3 linked regions of the Homo sapiens genome follow. The protein of the gene in region 1 interacts with the protein of each later gene in a pairwise test. Each region holds a gene or a part of one and is shown in the gene's direction. Other genes may lie near its edges. The genes, in order: APMAP, RASA4 and LOXL3.

Evidence for each region.
Region 2: the proteins of APMAP (region 1) and RASA4 interact in a two-hybrid assay, tested with the Homo sapiens proteins (one large-scale study listed by IntAct).
Region 3: the proteins of APMAP (region 1) and LOXL3 interact in a two-hybrid assay, tested with the Homo sapiens proteins (one large-scale study listed by IntAct).

Annotation. Positions count from the first base shown.
Region 1 is NC_000020.11:24,986,180-24,989,827, reverse strand, and holds part of APMAP (adipocyte plasma membrane-associated protein), read left to right. Parts: intron 1-3,648. UniProt on the Homo sapiens protein: Exhibits strong arylesterase activity with beta-naphthyl acetate and phenyl acetate. May play a role in adipocyte differentiation.
Region 2 is NC_000007.14:102,613,813-102,618,231, reverse strand, and holds the start of RASA4 (ras GTPase-activating protein 4), read left to right. Parts: upstream 1-1,475; 5' UTR 1,476-1,542; coding exon 1,543-1,607; intron 1,608-1,686; exon of another isoform or gene 1,687-1,709; intron 1,710-4,419. UniProt on the Homo sapiens protein: Ca(2+)-dependent Ras GTPase-activating protein, that switches off the Ras-MAPK pathway following a stimulus that elevates intracellular calcium. Functions as an adaptor for Cdc42 and Rac1 during FcR-mediated phagocytosis.
Region 3 is NC_000002.12:74,534,284-74,537,023, reverse strand, and holds part of LOXL3 (lysyl oxidase homolog 3 isoform 1 precursor), read left to right. Parts: intron 1-95; coding exon 96-315; intron 316-552; coding exon 553-733; intron 734-873; coding exon 874-1,028; intron 1,029-1,268; coding exon 1,269-1,436; intron 1,437-1,569; coding exon 1,570-1,732; intron 1,733-2,249; coding exon 2,250-2,493; intron 2,494-2,592; coding exon 2,593-2,708; intron 2,709-2,740. UniProt on the Homo sapiens protein: Protein-lysine 6-oxidase that mediates the oxidation of peptidyl lysine residues to allysine in target proteins.

The DNA of each region.
Region 1 (3,648 bases):
ATTCATGAGGAGTAAGGCAGCTGGAGTGTTTGTCTCAGCTTTGCCCCAGGTGTGTATTTTCAGATGGCTTTTTAAACTTGTTTCTTGATTTCTTAATTTTTTTCAAGGATAAATTGATGAATCTAGGAGCCCCAGTTTAAAGGATTGTGAAAAATGAACAAATTCAAGATGCTGTCACTAAAAAAGATGGGTTGATGCTATCTGATTTTCTCAGGTTCCAGGGATCACCTTGACACATGAGGTTGCTGGTACCCCATGGATTTGGGGCTATCAGGTTTTCCACAACAATCACAGGTGAATTTTGATCTCTTGGAGTCTGCTTGTTGGGACTTCAGTTCAGGACCCAAGGCCCTAATGTCCTGTGTGCAGAGTTAGAGGATACCCTTCAAAATCTGCCAAATTGGCTGGTGAATCTACAGAAGATTGTGTAAATCATGGCCCAGCCAACAGCAGTTGTCAAATCCTGTTGCATCACTGTGGTTGTGCTCTTGCCTTCAGAGAGTGTAGGCAATTTCAGGGTGCAGATGTCCTCATGGAGATGGGCATCCCTCCAGGCTCTTCCGAGAGATTGGGGCAAACAAACTGATTTCTCAAACTGCGCCTGGGAACTAAGTTGCCAGCGTTCCTGGATGTGTCAGCACAGGTTGGGAACCTGCAATGCTTTGTCAGTGAAAATGGATAGGGATCGATACAGTGTTCTTTATTTAAGTTAAAAAAAGAGTAAGAGGGAGGCAGACACCGAGAAAAGACAGAAGAATTGTGGTTAACTGTGAGTTTACAGGAAGCAACACTGATGAGGGCCTGCCGAAAAGTTAATGGACCTTGGGCTAAAATAAGTGTGGCACCCAGAGCAGGGGTCCAGGAGCTGTGCTTACCTCATTTATATAACAAGCTAACTCCATTTCAAGTGCTCAGGAACCACACATGGCTAGTAGCTATTGTATTTCCATCGTTGCAGAAAGTTCTATTGGACAGTGCAGCTCAAGGAGTTTTGTTTAAATTTAAGCTAGTATTTCTAATACGTGACCACAGAACTTTCCAGTGGAGGCTGGATGCTGATCAGGTGAGGTTGAGGAGGTGTTGGTGAAGTCTGACTGGGAAGGGAGCTGCATAGAGTTAGTGGTGTCCAGCTGCACATGAGGAACAACCGATGAAAGAGTTCGCAGGCCCACCCTGTACCTACCAAAGCAGAATCTCTGGCCCAGGTCATCTTGATGTAGCCCATCCAGGAGTTGGCTGCCTTTGGGAACAGTAGACTGAGTGGCCTCTAAATTCTTCTCCAGCTTTAGGAGAGTGTTACTGGTATGGTAGATCCCGCAGCATTGGGACACAAATCTTTGTCAATGGACTTTTGGCCTCCTTTCTGGCTGTAAGCCCCGTGGCTTTCAGTCCTGGCTGGACTTTTTGTTTGGGACATAATTGAGCCTCTAACTATTGTGTGAAGGGGCAACCAGGTATTTAAATGGGGTGCCACCAGCTCTGAATCAGATTACCACATCAAGATTTTAAAAATATAAGCTGCAGTGTGGTAAAGTAGAGGTCACAATGTTGGAGTCAAGACAGATGAGGAAAATCTGCCTTAGGTAGAATGATGTTAGGCAAGGAAAAAGTAGCGTTTTGGCAAGATTGTTACTGTTTATAATGAAGGTCATGAGGTGAAAACACAATGTACCTTCCCTAGAGGGACTCTTCTCTCCTGGGAGTGGGGTGGGTGATGGCATCAGCTTCCTTTAAGGCAGGCAGTCCCTGTTGGACTCAGTACCAGAGTGCAGTGAGGGCAGCTCTCAGGGCTGGCAGCCACACATCTTCACCATCCACCTTTCCATATGCTTTGTCTCTCTTTGGGGTTCACACTGTCAGAAGCGTTTCTGTCATTTACTTGTAACCAGCCCTGCTTTATTGTACAAGTACTTCATTTCTATTGTGTTGGAAGACTTTAGGTCACTTAAAGAAAATCACTTGGGTTGAAGGGTGTCCTAGCCATTGGAGTGGCAGTTTGCATGGTGGAGTCACTGACTTTGTTTTGTTTTTGTTTTTTTTTAACATCTTTATTGAGATGTAATTCACATACCATAAAATTAACCTACTTAAAATGTTCAAATCAGTGATTTTTAGTATAATGGCCAGTTTTGCAGTAATTACCGCAATCCAAGTTTAGAACATTCTTGTCACTGTCAACTTTTTTTTTTAGTTGAGGTGAAATTCGCATAACATACAATTAACCACTTTAAAGTGCACAGTTCAGTGATATTTAGTGTATTCACAATGTTGGGCAACCACCAACTCTCTCTGCTTTCAAAACTGTTTCATCACCCCATAAAAGCAAGGTGTTTACCTTGTACTGATTAAGTAATCACTCCCATTTCCCCCTCCCACACAAATGTTCAGCAGATGAGTGGGGCTAGACATGGTTGCTCATGCCTGCTCATCTCAGGGTGCACTTTGGAAGGCTAAGGTGGGAAGACTGCTTGAGGCCAGAAGTTCAAGACCAGCCTGGACAATGTAGCAAGATGTTTTCTCTACAGAAAGTAAAACAATTAGCCACGTGTGGTGGTGCACACCTGTAGTCCTAGCTACTTTGGGAGGCTGAGACAGGAGGATCACTTGAGCCCAGGAATTTGAGATAACAGTGAGATATGATCATGCCACTGTACTCCAGCCTGGTTGACATACTGAGACCGTGTCTTTATATTTAAAAAACAAAAAACCAGATGAGTGGGCAGCAAGTTGTGGTAGATACATACATAATCAACTGGTAAAAGGAACCATGTACAGATACATACTGCAACTTAGATGGGCCTAGAAAACACACTGAATGAAAGAAGCTAGTCATGAAAGGTCACTTGTTGTATGATTCCACTTATATGAAATGCCTAGAATAGGCAGATCACCATGAATTTTCACAGAGCTTTCAAACTCCCGCTCTGAGGGCTCTAGGTCTGGGCATCCTCCACTCCCTCCTCTTGCTCTTGGCAGGCAGCGCTTCTAATGGTGACCGCAGCCATAGAGTCACATCTGGCTCTCAGTTGCGCTTTTCCAGCTCTTGCATTGGCTGTGGGAAAGCCACTTGAGCCTTTCCCTGCCCACTTCCCTCATTTGTGAAGGAGAGAGATACCTGGTTCCATCTGGTTGCCCACGTAAAGCACATTTCTTGGCATACTCTCATTTGGACTGTTTGCCATTCCTCTTTTCCTGGCCCTTACTCCTTTCCCTGCTGCAGACCTCTCAGGTTGCATGAGCCTGCCGTCATGTCAGGTCGTAGTTCTGTGCTTTGTAGACATTTTTATGCCTGTGGTGCTTATACCCATGACTGGTATAAGTCAGTCACATTAGAAGAAGATTATTTGGTCCTGGGGTTTGGAGACAGGACTGGGAGGGAGAGGTTGACCTGACTTTCCCCTTCATTCTCACCTGCCCTCTTCCAGGAGCTGGGCTCCCTTGGCCTCTCCCTGGTGTGTCTGTGGCATTTTGTTTGTGTTTGTAGGGTCTGGACCACCTCCTTTCCCACCTAATAAAAGGGGTAAGGACTGGCAATGTGGCATTTTACCTGGCCTCAGGTGTACGGGGTGAGCTCTGAACCCCTTATGAGTGAAGGGGAGGAAGTTAGGGACAAAATTCATTTTTGGAAGATTATTAGAAGAAAAATAG
Region 2 (4,419 bases), on another chromosome or scaffold:
CACTTTTTCTTTCAACGACATTGACCTATAGTGAATATCAAAAGCATGCACTGAAACTCAAGAGCTGCCTCCTCTCCTGTGCCAGGATGCACTGTAACTTTTGTGAGCCCTAGGCATGTTTGACTTATATGGGTTAAGATATTCAAATACGGCTAGGCACGGTGGCTCACGCCTGTAATCCTAACACTCTGGGAGACCGAAGTGGGCAGCTCACCTGAGGTCAGGTGTTTGAGGCCAGCCTGGCCAACCTGGTGAAACTCCATCTCTACTAAAAATATAGAAATTACCCAGGCGTGGTGGCAGGTCCCTGAAGCTCTGGCTACTCGGGAGGCTGAGGCAGGAGAATGCCTTGAGTCAGGGAGGCAGAGGTTGCAGTGAGCTGAGATTGCGCTACTGCACTCCAGCCTGGGTGATAGAGCGAGACTCCACCCCAAAAAAAAGAAAAAAAAAAAGATATTCAAATGTGTATTTTACAACTGCTTTGGCATAAAGACTGACTGATACCAGTCAGGTCAGATTCATTATTACATATTCATTACTATTATACTCCTGTTTGACTAGGCATGGTGGGCTCACATCTGTGGTCCCAGCCCTTTGGGAGGCCAAGGCAGGAGGATAACTTGAGGCCAGGAGTTCTAGACCAGCCTGGGCAACATAATGAGACCCCCCCATTTCTACTAAAAATAAAAAAAATTAGCCAGTCGTGGTGGTATGCATCTGTAGTCCCAGCTACATGGGAGGCTGAGGTGGTAGGATTGCTTGAACCCAGGAGATTGAGGCTGCAGTGAGCTATGATTGCACCACTGCACTTCAGCCAACAGAGCAAGCCCCTGTTTCAAATGCATGCATACATACATACATACATACATACATACATACATACATACACACACAAACCAACCAATACAAAAAATACATATTTTTTTTCTTCTGATTCTAAAAAACATAAAAACAGCCAGGCACGATGGCTCATGCCTGTATTCCCAGCACTTTGGGAGGCCGAGGTGGGCAGATTACCTGAGGTCAGGAGTTCAAGACCAGCCTGGCCAACATGGTGAAACCCCGTATCTACCGAAAATACAAAAATTAGCTGGGCGTGGTGGCGCGTGTCTGCAATCCCAGCTACTTGGGAGGCTGAGACAGAAGAATTGCTTGAAACCGGGAGGTGGAGGTTGCAGTGTCCCCCACCCGCTCCTCCAGGGGCGCCCCCCTCGAGCCACCGCGCCGGCTGCCCGGCGAGTGTCAGCGCCTCCTCACAGGCCCCGCCCCTCACGCCCCAGACGGCCAATGAGAGCTGCGGCCCCGGCCGGCCCCTCCCCGCCCTGGGGAACCCCGGTCGCGGATTGGCCGGCCCGGGCGCAGTGTCCCCCGCACGTGGGGCGGGGGCGGGGTGAGTGGAGTGGCAGCGAAGCCCCGCCCCCGCCGCCCCGCCCCCGCCCCCGCCTCCTCCCCGGCCCGCCCCACCTGCGGCGCCCAGTCCAGCGCCCGCCGCCCGCCACCCCGGACCCCGGTGTCTGGCTTCCCCCGAGCCGGGACCCCGCGATGGCCAAGCGCAGCTCGCTGTACATCCGCATCGTGGAGGGGAAGAACCTTCCCGCCAAGGACATGTGAGCGCGGCCGGGGGTGGGAGCCCCAACTTTCCGGGGAGGGGCACTGCCCCCCAGGACGCCTGACCTTTCCGGGGTCCACCCACAAGAGCAGCGGAGAGGGTGCGGGAGTGCGGCCGTGGTGGGGGATCGGCGGGGAAAATGGGGACAGTGACATTTTCTGCGAGCACCAGACGGGGTGACAACCGGGGGGCGGGGAAGTGTCACCGAGGGCTGGGGGCTGGGAACTAGGGAGGGGGCGAGAATTTGTCAGCGATCCGCGGCTCACGAGGGGAAGGGGCTTTGATACGACAGGAGCTGGAGCCTGGTGACATGCCAGGGGAGACGTCTTGGTGATCTGCCCCCGGGGTGGGGTTGGAGGGGGTGGGGTGTCCCCCGCAAAGGAAGGGTCTTCCTCAGTAGTTCCAGAGCCCTTAATGCCCCGGAGTGTGCACCTGAAGCACATGCTGGGGCCCAGGGGCTGTCCCCGGGCTTCCTGCTGTGCACTCGGGTAGGAGGGACTGGCATGAAAAGTGAGAACAGGTCAGGAGGCCAGGACAGGTGCAGGACTGTGGGGGAGGGAAGGAGGGTAGTAACTGTCGCTTGTGCCTTGGGCTTTACACCTGAGCCATCCCGTTAATCCTCTCAACCACCCCGAAAGGCAGTTCTCACCGTTCCATTTTACAGATGAGAAAACTGAGGTTCAGAGAAGTGAAATGCTGGCTCCAAGTGGCAGGCAGAGCAGGGTCTTGAGTCTAGGGCTTCTCACAGGCACTGACATCTGGGGATTCCCCTGGTCCCTGGCTCGATTTGGGGAGGTTTCAGGGGCCCCTTGTTCCACTCTTCTCAGTAGGTCCCAGGGCTGAGCTGCCTGACCCCTGGCCCACCATCTTGGTCTTGCCACCACCTTCCTCATGTACAGGGTTTAGGCAGCTCCCTGCTCCTAGAGCCTCAGTTTCCCCTCTTTAAACTAGGGGTTGAAATCCCTCTAGAGGAAGAGGGGGAAAGCTCAAAGGTCAAGGGGCACTGGCTGCCTGGAGGAGGAGGGTGGGAGGGGGAAAAGTGGAGCCTGGAGGAAACAGAGTCCAAAGTCTGCGGAGCTGCAGTTCCCCACCCCTTGGGCGCCCCGGGCTCCTGGATGCAGAGAAGTGGCTAGCATGGGCGAGGGGGTGGAGCAGGGTGGGGGGCAGGCACTCTGCTCACACATATGTGTGGTGGCCCCTGTGAGCTTCCCAGCAAGCTCAGCGCGCCACCACCGAGAGCAGTGCCAGTTCCAGGCCCCCTGGGTCTGATGAGGCCCAGCTCAGCAGTTACCATGACAATGGGGAAGGGAGGGCGGTGGGCATCCCTAGGTGGGTTTCTGTGCTTGGAGGCTTGGAGGGAGGTGGAGTGGGAGCTGGCAGTGAGGTCTGTGGGCTGGGAAGGCAGAGGAGCTCTGAGAAGGGTCTCAGCCTCCAGGCCCAGCCTTTAAGCATCCCCCACCCCCTGCCACCACTGGCACTAGGAACTAGGTCATCTTGGCCTCTTCTGGCTGGTGGCAGCTGGGAGGAGCAGCCCCTCCGTCTGTCGCCTCCCTCCTCATCCCCACAGCAGCTGGCCCTAGTGCCTGGCTCCAGGCTCTCTCCAGCCCAGGGCAGCCAAGCTCTTGGAGTATGCCCACCTGGGAGCCCAGTGCCTGGTTCCCTGCTCAGTGCTTTGCCTCTGGGCAAAGGGGTTCCATCTACAGTGGAGGGGTGCCTTGGGATCTCGATCCTCACCCTGCCCCCCTGCCTGCCCTACTCACGTCTCCTTTGCAACCCCCCATCTTCCCCTGTGGCTTGCATACACAGCTCTGACCTGTCAGCCGCCTCTTAAACCATCCCATAAACAGTCCCTCACATTTGGGCTACTACCCTTCACATCTCTGCTTTCGCCCATGTGTGGGGACTTCTGCCTTCAAGCACTCCACTTCAGTCCTCCAGAAAACTCCTATTCAATGTTCAGGACTCCTCTCAAACTTCTCCTCTCCAGGGCATTCCCTGGTGCACTTGGGCAGAGTTCCTGGCTCCTGGGCTCGCCCCCCAGCACTCTGGGTGGCAGGAGGAAGCCCCTGGTGTGGCAGTTCCTCCGTCAAGTGGTGCCTGTCCCAGCTGACTGTGAGGGCAGGGACTGTGACTCATTCATCCTGGCACCGGGTCCATAGTAGGGAGAATAAGAGGTGTTGAGGACTTCCCCCACTTAATCCTCTTCTTAGCTTTATAAGATAGACATCCTCGGTTTGCACATTGGGAAACTGAGGCTCAGGAAGTGAAAGCCATTTGCCAAGAGGGTAGGTAGAGAAGTCAGGATTCAGATTGCCTTTGCTGCCGACAGGCTGAGAATTCTAGCCTGCCCGCGGCTGTAAGCTTGCGGCTGGGCTCAGTGAGACTGAGCCTCGGAAATCCTATGCAAAGCATTTGGCTGCAGAGTCGGGCAGGGGTTTGGAGATCATGGGAGGCCCTCACTGAGTACTGGAGTTTCACTGTGCCTCACCAGCACCCCGCCTATCTTCTGAGTAGCATCTCCTCCAGCCAGGGCTTGCATACTTCTGAGGACGGGGAGCTTACCACCTCTCATAGTGGCTCATCTTGACTGAGACAGTTCCAAGGAGGAAGCTGTCCTCACACAGCTGCCAGCTGCCTTCCTGCCACTTCTACTCATGGGTTTTTATTCCTCTAAAGGGCACAGAGCGCAGCTGCATTCCCCATCACTGCTAGCTTTCAGAGCCTGCCTGTTCCTGCCCTGCCTCTTCCCACTGTCTCTCGTCCCCACGTACCTAGGCATGAGCCAAGTCTCACGATGACCAGTGACCCAC
Region 3 (2,740 bases), on another chromosome or scaffold:
GGGGCATGGTGGAGGCATGAAGTGGGAGGATGTTTGTGGGGCCAAGAGGCAGGAGCATTGTTTTACCCTACTGCACCTCACTCCTGTCCCCCTAGGCTGCTAGCCCAACGGCAGCAACACTCCTTTGGTCTGCATGGGGTGGCGTGCGTGGGCACGGAGGCCCACCTCTCCCTCTGTTCCCTGGAGTTCTATCGTGCCAATGACACCGCCAGGTGCCCTGGGGGGGGCCCTGCAGTGGTGAGCTGTGTGCCAGGCCCTGTCTACGCGGCATCCAGTGGCCAGAAGAAGCAACAACAGTCGAAGCCTCAGGGGGAGGTGTGTGAGACAGTGATTATGACCTTTCCCACCCCAGGTGGAGAACCCCTAGCCTGGCAACCCCAGACTAAGCACAGCCCTGACCTTTGAGGACAGAGAGGAGCCTTCCAGGGGGTGGGCCACAGACCTGATACCACCCACTCCCTTCCACCAAAGTCTCACTCATCTCCCAGGTCTGCTTAGCCCTCCGTGCAGATGTTGCCATTTGCCTCTGTTGGGCACTTCTCTCTTCTATAGGCCCGTGTCCGTCTAAAGGGCGGCGCCCACCCTGGAGAGGGCCGGGTAGAAGTCCTGAAGGCCAGCACATGGGGCACAGTCTGTGACCGCAAGTGGGACCTGCATGCAGCCAGCGTGGTGTGTCGGGAGCTGGGCTTCGGGAGTGCTCGAGAAGCTCTGAGTGGCGCTCGCATGGGGCAGGGTGAGGTGGCATGGAGGTGGGAGGGAGAGGGAAGGAGGTACATGCTCCTGGGGGGCATATTCCTTCGGAAGGTTAGGTGTCCCCTGGGCAGACAATATATGCTTAATTACAACTTCCTGATCTTTGCCATCTGGCCCTAGGCATGGGTGCTATCCACCTGAGTGAAGTTCGCTGCTCTGGACAGGAGCTCTCCCTCTGGAAGTGCCCCCACAAGAACATCACAGCTGAGGATTGTTCACATAGCCAGGATGCCGGGGTCCGGTGCAACCTACCTTACACTGGGGCAGAGACCAGGGTCAGTCATCCTCTCTACCTTGGTTGAGGTCTCTTTCATCCTATCCAGGTCTGGTCTCCAATCTACAGTCCAATGGCCCCCAGCCCATTGCCCCAGGCCCCTGCCCTCCTGCAGCTCCCACCTGACCCATCACTTGCTAGCCCATTATGTGCCTGAGTCACGCTTCAGCCACATCTGTTAGAGACTCCCACTACCTCACCCCAAAGCTTTCTCCAGCGCTTCCATTCTGTGTCACTACAGATCCGACTCAGTGGGGGCCGCAGCCAACATGAGGGGCGAGTCGAGGTGCAAATAGGGGGACCTGGGCCCCTTCGCTGGGGCCTCATCTGTGGGGATGACTGGGGGACCCTGGAGGCCATGGTGGCCTGTAGGCAACTGGGTCTGGGCTACGCCAACCACGGCCTGCAGGTGAGTGGGAAGGAAAGGGGAGCCGAGGCTGTTGTCTCAAAGCCTGTGTTTTGGGCAGAGGGCTGAGGAATGAGTCCCTTGGCCCAAGATGCTGGATCCTGGGCCTTACAGAAACATCTGCATATGTCCCCAGGAGACCTGGTACTGGGACTCTGGGAATATAACAGAGGTGGTGATGAGTGGAGTGCGCTGCACAGGGACTGAGCTGTCCCTGGATCAGTGTGCCCATCATGGCACCCACATCACCTGCAAGAGGACAGGGACCCGCTTCACTGCTGGAGTCATCTGTTCTGAGAGTGAGTGAAGGAGGGGGTGATGCATGCCAGGGAAGGGAGTGTCTGGGCCACCCGTTTGCAGGGAAAGGGGGCTGTAATCTGGAGGGGCACTTCTTCCCCATAAAAGAGCCAGTTTCGCCGGGTGCAGTGGCTCACGCCTGTAATCCCAGCACTTTAGGAGGCCAAGGCGGATGGATCACGAGGTCAGGAATTCAAGACCAGCCTGACCAAGATGGTGAAACCCTGTCTCTACTAAAACTACAAAAATTAGCCAGGCGCAGTGGCAGGCGCCTATAATCCCAGCTACTCGGGAGGCTGAGGCAGGAGAATCACTTGAACCCAGGTGGCAGAGGTTGCAGTGAGCCAAGATCACGCCGCTGCATTCCAGCCTCGGCAACAGAGTGAGACTCCATCTCAAACAAACAAACAAACAAAAACAAAAACAAAAAACTAGTCTTACACACTAGGGAGGGATGGAAGCACCCCTCTCTGTGAAGTCAGCAGTGACTTCTAACACCCCCTTCCTTTCTTGGTGCAGCTGCATCAGATCTGTTGCTGCACTCAGCACTGGTGCAGGAGACCGCCTACATCGAAGACCGGCCCCTGCATATGTTGTACTGTGCTGCGGAAGAGAACTGCCTGGCCAGCTCAGCCCGCTCAGCCAACTGGCCCTATGGTCACCGGCGTCTGCTCCGATTCTCCTCCCAGATCCACAACCTGGGACGAGCTGACTTCAGGCCCAAGGCTGGGCGCCACTCCTGGGTGTGGCACGAGTGCCATGGGTGAGAGGGTAGGGAGTCAAGTAGAAGGGCAAGACCACGGGGGATGGGGCAAACCTTCTGGGGGCAGAGAAGGAAACAGAAGTTCCCTTCTCCCCACAGGCATTACCACAGCATGGACATCTTCACTCACTATGATATCCTCACCCCAAATGGCACCAAGGTGGCTGAGGGCCACAAAGCTAGTTTCTGTCTCGAAGACACTGAGTGTCAGGAGGGTGAGTTGGGGACTGAAGTGAACCACATGGTA